2 linked regions of the Homo sapiens genome follow. The protein of the gene in region 2 purifies or fractionates together with the protein of the main gene of each other region. This does not show direct contact. Each region holds a gene or a part of one and is shown on either strand. Other genes may lie near its edges.

Region 1 (3,500 bases), about 20 Mb from region 2:
AAATCAATCAATAAAAAATGGATGTGAGGAATTACTCAAAGAAAGGAATTTTTTTGTTTGTTTGAGACTGAGTCTCACTCTGTGGCCCAGGCAGGAGTGCAATGGCGCAATCTTGGCTCACTGCAACCTCTGCCTCCTGGGTTCAAGTGATTCTTCTACCTCAGCCTCCTGAGTAGCTGGACTACGGGCGTCCACCACCATGCCCGGCTAATTTTTGTATTTTTAGTAGAGACAGGGTTTCAACATAATGGCCAGGCTGGTCTTCAACTCCTGACCTCGTGATTCACCTGCCTCGGCCTCCCAAAGTGCTGGGATTACAGGCATGAGGCACCGTGCCCAGCCAAATAAAGGAATTTTTGAAGAAAGGAACCCTCAGGATCAACTCTAGAAGATAATATAAAAGCAGCCAGACGGTCCACACTACTAACTTCCACCTAACAAGACTGAGAAAATCGGCCGGGCGCAGTGGCTCACGCCTGTAATCCCAGCACTTCGGGAGGCTGAGGCAGGCGGATCATGAGGTCAGGAGATAGAGGCCATCCTGGCTAACATGGCAAAACCCCGTCTCTACCAAAAATACAAAAAAATTAGCCGGGTGTGGCGGCGTGCGCCTATAGTCCCAGCTCCTGGAGAGGCAGAAGAATGGCGTGAACTCAGAAGGCAGAGCTTGCAGTGAGCCGAGATCGCGCCACTGCACTCCAGCCTAGGGGACAGAGCAAGACTCCACATCTCAAAAAAAAAAAAAAAAAAAGACTGAGAAAATGTTCTGAAGCCATAGAGAGTGGCACACATACAAGAAACAGAGAGTGAAGGGCTATTTTATACAGCATCATAAGCATTAGAAGATGGTAAAGCATACAATGAATTGGAATCAAAAACAGAAATTCACTCTGCCACCCAGAAATGGGATACGCGTTTTCTTAAGCCCATCCAGGGTGAAGAAAACTACTCCACTTGAAGTTTGATAGGAAATTGGCTCTGAGAATAGCTGTCTTCTTATAGGAATCCCACAGCATCTAATACTCCCCTTTCTTTCCTTCGTTCTTCACCTACCTGCTTTAAATGCTTTTTCAGCTCTAGTGATTCTGGTTCTGGCAGGATAGGCAGCACTTCTGCATTGGTGGGGGCAATCACCTGCACCAGAGAAATGATAAAAGACGTGACCTTAGAGTTTATTGCTCAGGAATTTCACTTACATAAATAAAAATAAGAGGACGTATATACATTATTATTATATAAACGAATATACATTATATAACTGCACAGTAAGATATATGTACACACATATATGACATACATATGCATCTGAAATGAAATATAACTTAATGTTATTGGTTATTATCTCTAGATAAAAGGATTATGGTTTTTCTTTTCACTTATTTTATTTACGCTTATTTTTATTTTTTTTAAGTTTTACAATGAGCACACATAAGGGCTTCCCACCAAAGTCTGAATGTATTCACATTGCAGAATGGTCATATAATTAATTAAGCCTGCACTGAAAGACAGTTTCTTACTGGAAACTATACCCCAGGGAAACCATTAAGAGATGATCTATACCACATGTAATGGCCCTCAGATCACAACTGTCTGACTGCTCTTGGAGGATATGGTGGGGGGTCACTTAATTCTGGCAAAAATAAATCCTGTAATTCTCTGAGACCTAACCAAGGGTTTATTTGGCTAATAAGGTAAAAGGAGCATTTAAAAAAACTTGTTTCAGTAAGTCTCGCAATAGAAATTATCCAACAACTTAGGACGTTCCTGAAAGGAATCTAGAAACAGATATCTCAGGACTGGGTCTAGAATGCAATCCTCCTCTAGACTCTACAATGCCTCAGCCAAGAACCTCACCCTATTGCTGTCCAGATCCACTAGCCATACATCATCAGGCATTTTGAAGTCCAGTTTGTAGAGGAAGAAGCTGGCAGGAACCCCAATGATGTACGGGGTTGGAGCCAACAGCAGCTGTGGAAATGATAAAGAAGGTGAGAAACAAAGACAAAACCTATCATGAGCACTTATCAAGTCTGGATTCTTCTAGATAAGGAAATGCAGATACAATCCCTCTTCCAAAACTCTTGAGGCCAGATGTATTTGAAAATTCAGAATTTTTCAGATTTTTTGAAAGGTAACATGGTACATTTTTTTGTATACAGTAGTCTTTCTTATCCACAGTTTCACTTTCTGTGATTCCAGTTAACTGAGGCAAACTGTAGTCTGAAAATATTAAAAGGAAAATTCCAGAAATAAACAATTCATAAATTTTAAACTGCAGCTTGATCATATCTGAAGTGCAGGACAATAGTTCTGAGAAGCATGATGAAATCTCATGCTGTCCCGCTCTGTCCCACCCAGACATGAATCACCCCTGTGTCCAGCCTGTAGCCATCTCGGTTATCAGATCAACTGTCACACAATCTCAGCGTTTGTGTTCAAGTAACCCTTATTTTACTTAATAATGGCCCCAAAGCACAAGGGTACTGATGCTGGCAATTGGGATATGCCAAAGAGAAGCCAAATATATGTAGAAAGAGGCTGGGCACGGTGGCTCATGCCTGTAATCCCAGCACTTTGGGAGGCTGAGGCAGGCGGATCACCTAAGGTCAAGAGTTCAAGACCAGCCCAGCCAACATGGTGAAACCCCGCCTCTACTAAAAATACAAAAAATTATTTGGTGTGTGGTGGTGGCAGTGCCTGTAATCCCAGCTACTAGGGAGGCTGAAGCAGGAGAATCACTTGAACCTGGAAGGCAGAGGCTCCAGTGGGCCGAGATTGTGCCACTGTACTCCAGCCTGGGGGATAGAGGGAGACTCTGTCTCCAAAAAACACCAAATATATGCCCAAAGAGAAAACTGTTACTCTCTTACTGTGTCTAATTCATAAATTAAACGGTATCACCGGTATATATGTATAGAAAAAAACAAAGTATCTATAGAGTTTGGAACTATCTGTGGTTTGAGGCATCCACTGGTGGGTCTTGGAATGTGTCCTCCACAGATAAGGAGGAACTACTGTATTACGTAACACACGTAACACCTGCTGCAGTGTAGCCAGTGGCCTACAGTCATTAACATTTGTTGTGATAAATGAAAACTAAAATAGCATAAGCCTTGCCACCAGATCAGTTCAAATCAGTCAGATTTTGTAGACAAATAAGTTATGACAAAGGATTGAGGACCAGCACTCACTTACAACTTCTTTGAGCATTAAGCCTCCTCCCTCAGGAAGACAGAGGTGAGAAAGCCGGAAGTCGCCTTGAGACTCACCTGCTCTGCTGATGCCATGCAGGTGGGTAGCAGCGGGATGACAGGAAACATATACTCCAGTGGGTAGATCATTGCCACGAATGCCATCACAGACATGGAGAGTGCATTGTAGTCTCGGGACTGTAGCACCACCTGTCATGAGCCATCCAGTAAGAATCACTCCAAAACATAAAATATGGTTTACAAGAAAACAGCTTCCAACATTACAACTTGGTTTCCACTTCATCGAGC
Region 2 (4,194 bases):
GTAGAGCTGGGCCTGGCAGTCATTCCTGTAGCCCAGTCCAGCCCCTCTTCCATTAGCAGTGACAACCCTCATGCCGTCTTCCCCATCACCCGTAAGACCCATGGGGCAAATCCTGTTACTACCCCCTCCTCCACGGAGGAGGAGAGGGAGGCTCAGAGAAGGGCAGTGAATTGGCCCGAGGTCACCCAACCAGTGAGGAGGAAGCTCAGACCAAGCCGCAAGTGCTGCTGTGCAGCCAGTGCCCTTCTCAAGGGCTTTGCTCACTATCCCCGAGACCCCTTGACTCTGTCTCACCTGGGACCACCTCAGTGGGCTCCCGCTGGCAGCCTGGAGGTCTGCCAGGCAGAAGGACTGTGTCTTTGGCTAGAAGAGGATAGCAATGAGGTACAGTGGGACCAGGGCAGCCTGTGACCAGAGCATCCCCGGTGTCCAGACACACAGCAAAGAGCATAACATGGGGGACCAGAGTGGCTCCAGACCCTCACTGAGCTCCCAGACTGCACATCCCTACCTCTGCAGCACCCCTCCCCATCTGACCAATTCGTTCAGTCCCAAATCCCCAGACCCTAAACTGCACAGAGCTTACTCATTGAAAACAGCTCTAGGTTCAAATTCCAGCTCGATCATACCTACCTAGCAATATCTCCTTACTGCTACATGCATGTGGACATAACATGTGCTAAGTGCTTAGCACTGTGCCTGGTTGTAGTAGGTACACAATGTGGACATGATGATTCAGTGGATTAATGGATCCCCCTTTTATAGATGAGGAAGCTGGGGCCCCAGGTCACCTAGCATACAAGTAGCAACACTGGGATTGGTGCCAGGGTGCAATGGATCTGGGCCTGGGCTCTTGGTCACCATGCTGACTCCTGAACAGGCAGGCCTTTTGGGGTGGGGAGTTGGAAGAGCCCCCCACTTCCCCCAGCTTTGCTGGAATCAGACCATGGCAGAGGCCCCTCCTGGGCTTGTCAGAGAATTGGCTTTCCATGAATGTTGTGCCTCGGCGGGGGAGAGGGGCCCTCTGTCCCTGCCTTCTGCTCCACCCCACCTCCTTGCCCAGTGTCCTCACATCATTCTCTGGCTAGCAAGGCAATGGGAAGGGTCGGGAGTTGGGCCCAGGAGAGCCTCATCCTTCAACCTGTGAGCCTCTTCAGGATCTTTAGGTTGAAACCTTTTCAAGTACCCCTCCTCCGCTTTCTGAGATAACCACATCCTGCTGCCATCCCCCAAACAGCCCACAGAAACCGCAGGACAGACTGGCTGGGAGGTGCTGGCTGGCATTTATTGGGCACCTACTGTGTGACTTGCCCTGTGTTATCTCAGCACCGCAGCCCTCTGAGGGGGCTGCTACCCTGCTCCTTGTACTGGAGAGGAAACTGAGGTGCAGTGTGGGCAGCGCTGCCAGCCTACAGATGTGTTTTATTTGTCAGTCAGTCACCAGAGCTGACAAGTGGCAGAGTCCGGGTTTGAAACCCAGGCTGGGAGCCCCCACTCTGCAGAGCTGCTTAGGAAAGCTTTCAGACTTCAGAGTAGGGAGGCTGGGGGCTTGGGGACTTGTCCTAACCCTTCTTCACACTGGCTGTGGTAACTTCGGTGGGTCTCCTGCCCTCTCTGAGCCTCAATTTCCCCATTTCTAATAGGAAGCACTATTGCTGCTGCTCTCTAAAACTGTCATCCCCTGACGGGGAGAAGGAGCTGACATTCCATGGTGCAGCTTTCCCAGGCTTTTGGGAATGGAGGAGGGTGCACACAGTCTCTCTGCAGCCCCTGGAAGAGAGCTCCCAGGATGGCCAGCTCAGGGCCTTCCACCCACAGGCCAGGCTCCCGGCCCCCCACCTCCCTCCCCCAACTTCAGCCCAAATCTACAGCCTTGAGGCCCTGAGTCTGGGCAAGCTTCCTCCCCTGCCCCGCCATACCCCTCTCCTAAGCTCTGGAAAGCCCCCCACTCAGGCTGGTGCCACCGGCGGCTGAGGGTCATATCTGGCTCTTCACACGGCCAGGGCCTCCTCGGGCTGGGGTGCAACGTTCCCCTCCAGATTGGGACGGTTCCTGCAGACCCAGCGCTCCTGCCTCGGGAACCTCCAGGGTGTATGGGGACCGGAGTGTCGGGAGGGGGTGCGAAGCCAGAGCAGGGACAGTGAGGACAGTCAGGGCGCTGAATGCGAAAGTGAGGGGCGTGTGTGCAGCGTGGGCGCGGGGAGGCGTGTAAATGGCCGGGTGAGCCGCGTGTGTGCACATGCGGGGCGTGCGATGCGATGCGCACTGCGCGGAGTGGCCGGGCCGGGTAAGGGCGCCCAGCGTGCGCGGTGCCCGGCATTCGTTCGTGTGCAAGCGCGGCGCGGAGGTGCAGGAGCGCGGAGTGCGCGGGGCTCTGGGGTCCCGGGCCCAGGGCCCGAGGAGGGGGCTGCGTGCGTCCGCGATCAGGGTGCGATCCCGGCCGCGCACGGGGGTCGGCGGGGTGCGTACTCACCCGGGCTCCGCGGAGGGGCCGCCGCTCCGGCTGGGCTCCAGCTGCCGGCCCGCCTCCCGCAGCGCGCACGCACCTGCGCCTAGCCCGGCCGCCGGCGGCAACGCCACCCCTGCAGTGTCGCCGGGCTCCCGCCTCCGAGGAGCGCGGCGCGGGCCGGGGGCTCGGCCGGGCCGGGGCGGCGGACCGGAGCTGCGCCGCAGTCCGGGCACGCTCCCAGGAGCCCGCCGCGCGCTCCCTCGCGCTCGCCCGCTTGCCCGCCCGCTCCCTCTTGAATTTAAAGTGACAAGCTCGAGCGCTGTCTCTGCTCCTGGGGTCCGAGCCGGAGATCCCCAAGCGCGTCCGGGATCCAGGGACGCCCTGAGGCCAAGCCCAACCCCTCGCTCCCACGCCTGGGGACAGGGGTGGGTGGGGACGTGCCCACAGGCCTCTGAGAGGCAGGCCAAGCACTGGACTCAGAGCCAGCCGGCCTGGGTTCTAGCCCCAGCCTCCGCGCCCTGGGTTATCCTGTTCTCTTTCTAGGCCTCAGTTTCTTTACCTTAAAAACGGACCCGATACTGCGCACCTCCGGGAGCCAAGGAAAACAGCGACAGGAGGCGCAGCGGAAAGTTTCCCCTTTTCTGAATGGATAATTACTCCCTCCCACCACGATTGAGCTGTAGGTCAGCTCTGTGCTGGTGCCTTACAACATCATCTCAGTCCTCACCGTGGCCTAATCTGGTCGTGGTGACTCCATTTTTTACATGAAGAAACAGGCTCAGAGAGGTGACCAAGGTCACAGAGCCAAAGGTCAGAGCCAGAATTGAACCCAGGTCTGTGTGACTTCAAACTCCATACCTTTAACCACTAAGGGGTCGTGCTTTCTCTCCCAAAGGAATGAATGAATCATTCAGGAGATATTTATGACGCCCCCGCAGGGGCTGGGCACAGTGCCAGGTGTGGGCGATCTTCCATCTTCCGGGAACAGGGGACAGGTCCCTCCCTGCCCGCGCAGTCTGGCAGTGAGGCACGGCTTGCACTGGGAGGGGCTGGGTGCGGGGGAAGGTGCCACATGTTGTGGGCACAGTAACCAGGGGAGCAGGCTGGGTGGACACCTGGGGAGACCTCTCCAACGGTCTGGGGTGGGGGAGGAAGAGGGGCGAGGATCCCAGATGGGGAGCAAGTGTGCAAGGGTGGCAGTGCTTCCTGGCTCATCTACACTCTGGGCCTTTAGAGCTGAGGGCAGCCTGTGGGCACTGACCTCTCAGTGGAGGCTGGGTCTGTGCTGGCTTGGTGCAGTGTGGGCATCCTTGGTCTAGAAGACAGGATGCTGGGGAGCCCTAGAAAGAGAGTTGCATCTGGCTAACACGGTGAAACCCCGTCTCTACTAAAAATACAAAAAAATTAGCCAGGTGTGGTGGCGGGCGCCTGTAGTCCCAGCTACTCGGGAGGCTGAGGCAAGAGAATGGCGTGAACCCAGGAGGCGGAGCTTGCAGTGAGATCGCGGCGACTCCGTCTCAAAAAAAAAAAAAGAAAAGAAAAAGAAAAAAAGAAAGAGAGCTGCATCTTACCTTCACCCACAGGGGGCGCTTTTGTCTTCATTTCATTTCCTGGACCTGGAACAGAACAAAGAGAAAGGGCATTATCATGGGGCGGGGGGCCTGGGTAATGGGCCCTGAGCTTTCACTGCCATTTCCCATTTAACTCAACCTTCACAGCCAGCTGCAGCTTTGGTACGATTGAGT

The links.
Region 1: the proteins of SYT12 (region 2) and MADD purify together in Homo sapiens (co-immunoprecipitation; 3 studies listed by BioGRID and IntAct, with this or other methods). This does not show direct contact.

What each region holds. Positions count from the first base shown.
Region 1 is NC_000011.10:47,276,633-47,280,132, reverse strand, and holds part of MADD (MAP kinase-activating death domain protein), read right to left. Parts: intron 3,402-3,500; coding exon 3,270-3,401; intron 1,969-3,269; coding exon 1,855-1,968; intron 1,135-1,854; coding exon 1,054-1,134; intron 1-1,053. UniProt on the Homo sapiens protein: Guanyl-nucleotide exchange factor that regulates small GTPases of the Rab family. Converts GDP-bound inactive form of RAB27A and RAB27B to the GTP-bound active forms.
Region 2 is NC_000011.10:67,021,740-67,025,933, reverse strand, and holds the start of SYT12 (synaptotagmin-12), read right to left. Parts: upstream 2,801-4,194; 5' UTR 2,474-2,800; intron 1-2,473. UniProt on the Homo sapiens protein: Synaptic vesicle phosphoprotein that enhances spontaneous neurotransmitter release but does not effect induced neurotransmitter release. Unlike other synaptotagmins, it does not bind Ca(2+) or phospholipids.